3 separate regions of the Homo sapiens genome follow, and regions 2 and 3 are each reported to be linked to region 1. Evidence: microRNA targets listed by miRTarBase, many of them from high-throughput screens and not tested one by one. Region 1 holds a microRNA gene; each other region holds the end of a gene's coding sequence. Distances are between the middles of the regions.
What was found. Region 1 holds the annotated microRNA hsa-miR-3164 (UGUGACUUUAAGGGAAAUGGCG, at 1,169-1,190, opposite strand). A microRNA usually pairs through its seed, bases 2 to 8, with sites in the 3' UTR of a target mRNA and lowers its output. Matches are read on the target gene's strand: a 7mer-m8 pairs with bases 2 to 8, a 7mer-A1 pairs with bases 2 to 7 and ends in A, and an 8mer does both.

Region 2: the mRNA of FAT3 is a reported target of hsa-miR-3164. The part of its 3' UTR that is shown has no 7-base or 8-base seed match.
Region 3: the mRNA of TMEM101 is a reported target of hsa-miR-3164. Seed matches in the 3' UTR shown: 8mer at 2,017-2,024.

Annotation. Positions count from the first base shown.
Region 1 is chr11:69,081,216-69,084,374 of GRCh38, reverse strand. It overlaps MIR3164 (microRNA 3164), which reads right to left and starts at 1,199; the gene lies at 1,117-1,199. It overlaps TPCN2 (two pore segment channel 2), which reads right to left. Exons shown (of 25, transcript NM_139075.4): 18 at 2,876-2,975; 19 at 359-430.
Region 2 is chr11:92,890,776-92,893,934 of GRCh38, reverse strand. FAT3 (FAT atypical cadherin 3) reads right to left here. Exons shown (of 28, transcript NM_001367949.2): 28 at 1-3,159. The coding sequence ends at 2,822. Among named protein-coding and RNA genes, the nearest start is that of LINC02746, 23 kb to the left of the region's middle.
Region 3 is chr17:44,009,405-44,012,563 of GRCh38, forward strand. It overlaps TMEM101 (transmembrane protein 101), which reads right to left. Exons shown (of 4, transcript NM_032376.4): 4 at 1,784-2,832. The coding sequence ends at 2,524. Among named protein-coding and RNA genes, the nearest start is that of TMEM101, 4.0 kb to the right of the region's middle. RefSeq lists a silencer at 1,857-2,151.

The DNA of each region.
Region 1 (3,159 bases):
GTCCCTGGAGCAAAGCCCTGCGCCTCTTAAATTTCTGTCATTACTTTCTCAACGAGATCCACAACCCAGAAAACACGAGAGACTCAAAAATTACCAAACAGTCTCTGCCATGGGAGGGAAGGATGCTCAGGCAGGGCCACCAGCCACACCACCCGAGCTCCCTGCTGTACAAAGAAGGGGATGCCTCTGGCTTCTTACCCCGACCCTGTACTTCCCTGGCCTCAGGAACCTGCTGCCGTCCGAACCCAAGAACCTTCCTACCGACAGAGCAGTGAGCCGGCCCGGCACTGCCTTCCGCCAGCCTCCCAGCCTCCCACTCCAGTGCATAACCCGCCACCAGCAGCAGCCTGGGACTCACCACCAGGATCCCGCCAAACGCACGCATGTTCTGCACCAGGCCCAGGACGGTACTGGCCACCACGGCCATCAGCTGAGGACAGGAAGAGAGCACAGCCCTTACTCCTCCTGGCCCCACTGAGGGGACACCATCCCGGCCCACCACGCTGACCCTGACAGAAAGGCAAGATGGGGCAGGCCAATGACCACCAACCCACACACACACACCTGGACCCACAGCCACCCCCACACGCCTCTACACACCCACACAGCCTGTCAGGCCCCCACGTCCACCCATACACACCCTCGCACCCCAACACCTACATCTACCCACACGCATTCGCACACGCTTGCATCGCCACCCGCACGCACTCACTCACCCACTCCCGCATCCCAACACCTCCACCCCAGCCTCATTCAAGCACGGACTTCAAATTCCTGTGGGAGGCCCTTCTCTGCCTCCCAACCCACTGCAGGTGGGTCAGCTACTCTGTGGCCTGGAGACGCCAAAGAAATGCAGAGCTAGAGGTGGCAGGAGCACCTGCAGGAACTGAGTCTGAGAAGGGGCCTCTGAGAACCAGCAGGGAGGCCCCGGCTCCAAAGAGCCGCTCCTCCTCATCACAGCCTAGCCGGGAGAAAGGCCTTCACATCAGCCCCATCAACCCACCTGAGGAATCCAAACTAGACAACACAGCTGAACGCCACAGTGGAGACCAGTCAGCATGTACGTGTGCACACGTTGCGTGTCATCGTGAGCATGTATATACTCACGTGAGAGGTCCTGGGAAACTGCGACTTCAAGCAAAACGGCATGATTGCAGGGTCTGCTGTGCGCCATTTCCCTTAAAGTCACAGTTTCCAAGAACCTGTGGATAGCACTGAGGCCTTACTGTGGATGTGTGCACACACGATCATGCATCTTACACGGGCACAAGTTCACATGGATATCTGCATGCGATGTGTGCACACACGATCATGTGTCTTACACGGGCACGAGTTCACAAGGATATCTGCATGCGATGTGTGCACACACGATCATGCGTCTTACACGGGCACGAGTTCACAAGGATATCTGCATGCGATGTGTGCACACACGATCATGCATCTTACACGGGCACGAGTTCACGTGGATATCTGCACGCGATGTGTGCACACACGATCATGCGTCTTATCCGGGCACGAGTTCACATGGATATCTGCACGTGATGTGTGCACACACGATCATGCGTCTTACACGGGCACGAGTTCACATGGATATCTGCACGCGATGTGTGCACACACGATCATGCGTCTTACACGGGCACGAGTTCACATGGATATCTGCACGCGATGTGTGCACACACGATCATGCGTCTTACACGGGCACGAGTTCACATGGATATCTGCACGCGATGTGTGCACACACGATCATGCGTCTTACCCGGGCACGAGTTCACATGGATATCTGCATGCGATGTGTGCACACACGATCATGCGTCTTACCCGGGCACGAGTTCACATGGATATCTGCATGCGATGTGTGCACACACGATCATGCGTCTTACACGGACATGAGTTCACATGGATATTTGCATGTGATTATCTGTGCATACGGTGATGCGGGCGTGCGTATTAATGTACGTGTGTATGTGCATGATGATGTGTATTGTATCCAAACATGATTGTATATGTGTGACTGTGTATGATCATGTGTGCCTGTGATTGTGTGTGTATATGCATGTGCATGGTCACATGTGTGGTTGTGTGTGAGATCACGTGTGCTTGGCTGTATTGTATATATGTATGATTGTGCTTGTATGGCTGTAATTATGTGTGAACACGTGTGCGCGTGTGTGTGCGTATGAAGGTCCCAGCACAGCAGCCCCGTAGGAAGGCTCAGGACCCCTGAGCTGCCTTCAAGTGGGACATACTGTCAGGTGGGACAGGTGCACAGCTCAGAGGAAGGATGAACGGGGACAGAGGAGGGACCTGGACACTCAGAACATGGGTCTTAGGACATGATGCCAGGAGCAGCAAGGCCCAGACCCCCGACCTCTGCCTGCCTGCCCCTTTAAGGTGCCCATTGCTCCTAACCGGTGCATTAAGAGAAACCAGCCCTCAGAGATGGTCATGAGCCACCTGCGCCCGCATTAGAGGATCCTGGAAACAAGCTCCCTGGCCAGGGATACCACTGCCCCTCATTAATAGCACCCTGGGAGCCATGGCAAAGGCCTTTCTGGGAACCTCAGAGACCTGGGGGAGCACTGGTGTCCAGGGCTCCAGCCCCAAGGAGCTCCTGCCACTGGCCAAAGCATTGCACCCGCCACACCCTTGCCCGCCTTCCTCTCCCAACCCAGAAATGCAGGGCTGGGCTCTCCTGCTTCTAATGACCCTTCCCCAGCATCACAAGAGCACGGCAGAGAGCTGAGGGTGCAGCCAGGGAGCCCAGGGTGACGGGCACAGTCCTCGGGCCCTTCCTGCCCCAGGCTCACCCACCCTGGAGCAACGCAGCAGCATGACCCAGGAGGGTGGGGCGAGTGGGGGTGGGGCCGGCACACACCTTCATGCTGGGGATGATACGCAGGAAGCGGAACACGATGAGCATGTTCAGCATGCGGGTCATGTCCCACAGCGACAGCAGGCCCACCATCTCCGGCCTCCTGGGGAGAGACACGGGAGGCGGGTTGGGAGGAGCCCAGGAGCCCCACAGGGAGGAGACAAGGAAACGCGCGGGTTCCTGGACGGAGGCGCAGGGAGGGCAACAGGGCATGACGGGAGTGCACCCCACAGCCAACACCGAGCAGAAAAGCCTCTGCAGGGTGGCGAGAGGGCGGGGCCTGGGCT
Region 2 (3,159 bases), 24 Mb from region 1:
TCTGGGTATGTTTCCTCTTTGATAAAATAAGGAGTTTGGACTAGCAAATAGGATTCTTCCAGCTTTTTTGAATTAGTGATCATCCCCACCTAGTAGCATCTTGGCCTGACTGCAAAGCATTTCATAATCTACAGAGAAATCTAACTTTCCAAAAAGTGAAGAGATATCATGTGTTTAAAGATAATAAATCAAAACACAATACATGCTTGCCTGGTATATATTTAGCTGCAGAGCTATTCTGCAGAAAATCAGGGGATGATATCCCAAAGAAAGAGATATTTTATATAGGTCACAGCAAAGGGTGGGCACAATTTTCTTCAGTGGCTTCATGACTGCATTAGGATCTATTTATTCTTTCATTACTGTGTCAGTCAGGCATTCTCCCTCAAAGAGATGCTGTGTAAGCAGTAGGGACTCATCAGCATTAATCTCATTCTAATATTTCCTGGGGGCAGGAAATGACATGTTGGTTTTACTTTGATGGTTTTTATGTCATTGCATTACTTAAAGTGTAGCAGTCACTCTATTCTAGGCCATTAGTTTGTCATTTTTTTCCATGATTCTTGCAAATGTGCTTCTTACATAAGAAAAATACCAAAGACTTTGTTCTCGAAAGCAGCCTTAGTGAAATTCATTTATTTCAAGATCACAGTGTGGATAATACCTCCATGAGTAGGTCTGACCAAGAGACAGGAAGAGAAAGGCTGGAAAACTTGTGAAGTGTAGTGTATCCACTTACTTAGAAAGTTTGGGAATGAAAAAGGATTTTTTTTTTTGCATAAACATTCAGAAACACTGACTCATAAAAAAGAAGTGGATTAAACGCAATTGAAATAACTAAAAATATGTCTGAGTGAATAATGCACAGACTAGGGACAGTACAATTTACACACCAATGCCATATGTCATCAGAAACTGTGGACACAGATTTGCTCATTAAGCAGATAGTGCAAATATGCATATATTTACCATGGCCACTGCACAGGCGGCCGTAATCTGATTGAAGCAAAAAAGGAAAGTCCCTCAACCTGTCAACTTTCAGTTTTGAGGACTGGATTGTTATATTTCCAGTGGAATGATTCTCCTGTTAATTTTGGAAATCATGGCCAAAGCCCACAGATGAGAAGGGAATCCCAGGGTGTAATCAAACATTACACACTTTTAAAACAGAGGTAAGTTCTGGAAAATTATAACAAAATACTGTTTTTAAAAAGCACAGTTTTGGGCTGGGCACGGTGGCTCATGCCTGTAATCCCAGCACTTTGGGAGGCCACGGCAGGTGGATTACGAGGTCAGGAGTTTGAGACCAGCCTGGCCAACATGGTGAAACCCCATCTCTACTAAAAATACAAAAAATTAGCCAGGCGTGGTGGCACACACCTGTAACCCCAGCAACCTGGGAGGCTGAGGCAGGAGAATCGCTTGAACCCAGGAGGTGGAGATTGCAGTGAGCTGAGATCATGCCATTGCACTCTAGCCTGGGTGACAGAGCAAGACTCTGTCTTGAGAAAAAAAAAAAAAAGCACAATTTTGCTTTATTGGCAGTACCAAAATAAAGTTAACTGAACCAGAGTAAAATATGGCATTTGATGTTTCTCTAACACCATAGAGATCAGAGAAATTGAAAGGTATGCCATGCTCGCCGGCAGAATTTTCAACATGGTCCATTTCCCAAAACCTTCACATTAGCTTTCCTCAAGAGCAGCCTTACTGAGTGCAAGCACATATTTGTACATAGGCCCAGACACACACACACTATTATAATTTATACACAATAACTAGTCTACTTTCCTCTTTTCTTAACATAATTGTATTTATAATGGTGATGCTACCGATTTAGAATAACAGACACCTTTCCTCTGCATTATGAAGAATTGTGATTATCTAGGCCGCAAACTTTGAAGGTATCGTTTTTTCTTTTTTCCCCCCTGAATTTGTGAGTTTTGCTTAAACTTCTAAAAATATCTAATTGTAGAGAAGCTATATGAACAAAGCCAACTTCTGTAGCAATGTTAGATTTACCAACTGGAATATTTACCAGAAAACACAAAACCAACCAGATAATCACATTCTTTCTAATGTTCAAACAACTTTAACTTCCTCCCCCACCCACCAAATGGAACCCAAAAAGCCTCATGTTGCTCTTCATTGATACCTTTCTTGAAGATCATAAAACCCAACTATATTAGATTGGATGCTTAACACAAACAAACAGAAATAACTGAGCATACTAAACATGTTATTCAAGCCTAATTTTATAGCTGAAAATTGGGCAGCTTATCAAAAAAATAGAGTTGATTTAAAAGGCTTCAGCCCATTTTCTGGTTTGTTTAATAATATTTGTTTCTCTTCTCTTTCGCCTAAGAGACTAACTTTTCCAACAATCATTACTACTATTTTCATTTCATTGGCTCAAAATTACATGCAACAATGCCTCTTTGATTGTTGCCAGTTTTTAATACTGCAAGGACTGATGCTGTAACACTTTCCAGGGCACAATACTGCACAAAGCCATACAAGACTGGCTGTATAACTTAGTGGGTGAAATAATTTTTCCCTCTTTGCATTTTTAGCTGTGAACATAGGTACCTACATCAAGGATTACCAGTCACCTCTCAAAAACAATTTCTGAGCCTTTCATTTTCACCCAACTGGAATCAAGCTTGCTTGTTGGGACAGTATGACTTGTGAAGAAGTTTCTAGTGGAAAAATACAGTATTCCCTTCTCATTCCACAGACAATGCTCCACTGGGACAGAAGCCCAGCCAATCTGCTTCCACTTTTCTGTAACAAACAGGGTGAAGTACCCAAGATGTGATGTCTACACTTGAGTCTGATGCTGAGTCTCCACAAAGGGAATGTGAAGGCTGGCGAGGCTGAGCTCTCCCACGCTCTCGTAGTCACTCATGGCTACTTCGGAATCGTCAAAGCCGCAGTTGGCAGACACATCCGAGGATGAGGTGCCTCTGGAATTGTGCAAGGACAGAGACACGCTGTCTGCTGGGCCTGTGGGCTCTGTGCCCTGGTTCATGCTCACAGCAAAAGTACTAAATTCACAGCTGGCAGGCGGGCCCACCAAATCCGTTTCGTTGGGGAATGGGTGAGGAGGGAGATACTGGCTAGGATGAAACTGGGGCCTTCTCCTGCAGTCTGGGCTCA
Region 3 (3,159 bases), not on the chromosome of region 1:
TCTTGAGGGCTGGGGAATCAGGGGACTCCTGGAGGGAGTAGAAGACTTCTATGATGAATGCTGCCACCATCTCCCTCCCAGAGATTAGGAAGCATCCTCCCTTCCACAGACCAGGCCACAGCAGCCCCAGCTCCCCTTGCCTGTGAGTGCCTCCACCCACAGCTCCCTTTCTAGGCTGGGCTCACAGCCAGACCCAGGCATCAGTGGCGGACCGTTTACCTGCAAGAGCCCAGAGAAGTTAAAAGATGGCTTTGGCTTAAAAGCTCAAACTTGGACGTTTTCCCCTAGGCCCTACTAGTGGTTGTGTCCAGTCTCTACAGGACTCGATGGGCAGAAATCCAAAGCCCAGGGGTTTCATTTGACATTTTTTGAAGCTCCATAATGTAGCAGGCACCATACCGGCTGCTGCTGGGGTGACTTTCTGGCAGACACATAGACAAGAAGGGAGAAGGTCGCCGGATGCGATGACTCACGCCTGTAATCCCAGCACTTTAGGAGGCCGAGGCGGGTGGATCACGAGGTGAGGAGATCGAGACCATCTTGGCTAACACAGTGAAACCCCATCTCTACTAAAAATACAAAAAATTAGCTGGGCGTGGTGGCGGGCGCCTGTAGTCCCAGCTACTCAGGAGGCTGAGGCAGGAGAATGGCGTGAACCTGGGAGGCGGAGCTTGCAGTGAGCCAAGACCGCACCACTGCACTCCAGCCTGGGCGACAGAGCGAGACTCCGTCTCAAAAAAAAAAAAAATTAGCCAGGCATGGTGGCGGGCACCTGTAATCCCAGCTACTCAGGAGGCTGAGGCAGGAGAATCACTTGAACCCGGGAGGCAGAGGTTGCAGTGAGCCGAGATCACACCACAGCACTCCAGCCTGGGTGACAGTGAGACTCTGTCTCAAAAAAAACAAAAAACAAACAAACAAACAAAACCGTAGTCCCAGCTACTCGGGAGGCTGAGGCAGGAGAATGGCATGAACCCGGGAAGCGGAGCTTGCAGTGAGCAGAGATCACGCCACAGCACTCCAGCCTAGGTGACAGAGCAAGACTCCGTCTCAAAAAAAAAGGGAGAAGGTCAACAGGGAGACCATCATGGCACAGTAGGGGCTGGAATAGAGCAGCCTCTGTCTCCCCTCAGGAGATGGGTCACAGTGAGTACATATCTGGACTTCACCATTAGACAGACCTGACCTGGAATCCAGCTCTGTGGGCTGGATTTGCTCTGTGGCTTGACCGAAACTGCTTATCCTCTCTGAGCCTCCATTTCCTTCATGTATAAAGTGTAAAATATTCCACTTCACAGTGGACACTTCACAGTTCTCTCCCTCTAGCTGCTCTCACCAAAGATGTCTTCATAAGAACCAGCTCCAAATGGGGAGAAAAAGACAACCTACAACAAGAGGGACTGAGGTGAGGGATTGAAAGCATATAGTACAATGAGGATTTTGAGATTCTTGAAAAAGAGAGCCACTGGGCACAGTGGCTTATGCCTGTAGTCCCAGCACTTTGGGAGGCTGAGGCTGAGGCTGGAGAATCACTTGAGCCAAGGAGTCTGAAACCAGCCTGGACAACAAAGTGAGACCTTGTCTCTAAAAAATAAAGAAGTGAAAAATTAAAAAAAAAAAGAAAGAGAGAGAGCCAAAGAACTGTGGGAAATCTTGGAACAGGGGAAAGATCACGGGAGGCCCAAGGTGGGGCTTGACCAGATCTAGTGTTTCAAGAAACCCAAGATCAATCCCAGCCAATGGCAGAGTTCCCTGTTGGGGAGAACAGAAAAGCAAAACCAAATGTCTATATAAAATGTTTATTTTTGGAGGACTGTGTGGTCTGGTGTTTGGGAGGGAACTCCACCCCCACCAGGCCAACCATGGAGCTAGAAACAGAGACAGCAGGAAGGGCAAAGCTGGCCACTGCCTGCTCCACCCCTTCACAGCCCAGAGCAGAACAGGGTCTGCTCTACTCTCAAGGTGAGTGACAGAGAGCCGGTACTGTTTCTGCCCCTGGCATACCCTGAGAACCCATGTGACTTCTGTAGTGCTCAGCCCCTGTGCCCTTCCTGGGCCTGATCCACATGTGTCAACACACGCACTCCCTCTCACAGTCTCCAAACAGCACTGCAGAGCCTAGCTGCATCTGCCAGGTTCAAAGAGGAATTTTTCACATTTGCTCACTTCCAATCTCCATCTTCCTTCCTCTGTCTCCCACTCTCCCACTCTCAGTAGCCGCATCCCAGCCCTGCCATACTCCCTTCTCAGGGACAGGAGACTCAGTGGGCAGCTGGCCTCAGCTCTCCTAACAGGAAAAAAACCTGTACAGCATTAGTGCCAGGGCTCCTGCCCTCCCAAGCGCTGAGCCCAGAAATTTGGACAAATGAGCTGCCTCTTAACTGCAAAAAACAATTTTAAAAAAGCAAAAGATCAAACAAACAGACCAAAAAGCATAAATAAACAGCAGCTGGGCCAGCAAGGAGGAAGGCAGGGTGACCCTCAGTGGCTCCCTGTGCCCATCTCAGCCTCTTGCCATAAAACTCAGCCATCAGTGGCCAGGATGACAGCAGTTCCGAAGATGCCCACACTCTCTCCAAGGAGCTTCATCTGGTTCCAGAACTCAACACGCCGCGTGTTGTGCCAGTAAGCAACATTGCCATCAATGAGCAGCATGACAGGGGGCAGCAGTACAGCCAGGATCTGGGCAGCGAGGGTCACGTAGTAGCCTGACAGAAAGGCCAGGGCCAGGATGCCATACAGCACGAAGAACAGCTGGATCATCAGCTCCCCTCCTGGGAGATGGTTCAGATACGCCAGCCGGTCCTCCTTGCTGTGCTGCAGTGAGTAGGCCTGGAGACATAACATCCTCTAAGACTCTCCAACAGGCTCAGAAGCCTGTCTGGGGTAAACCACCCCTGAGATGGCACCTGCAAATGAGTCCCTGCAGATGGGCTTCTGACTCCCCTCTTGGACTGGGGAACCTCTGAAAGTAGGGCCTTTGTCTCCCCCTCGGACTATGGAGCCCCAGGAGATTAGGGCCCATGTCTCCCCTCACCCTAGGGGCTATGAAGGAAGTGTATTTCCACAGTCAGACTAGAGCTCCCACCTCTGAATATGGGAGCCCACACAGAGAGCTGTACAGAGATATACTCGGTAATTAAGATAAGACCTAATGGC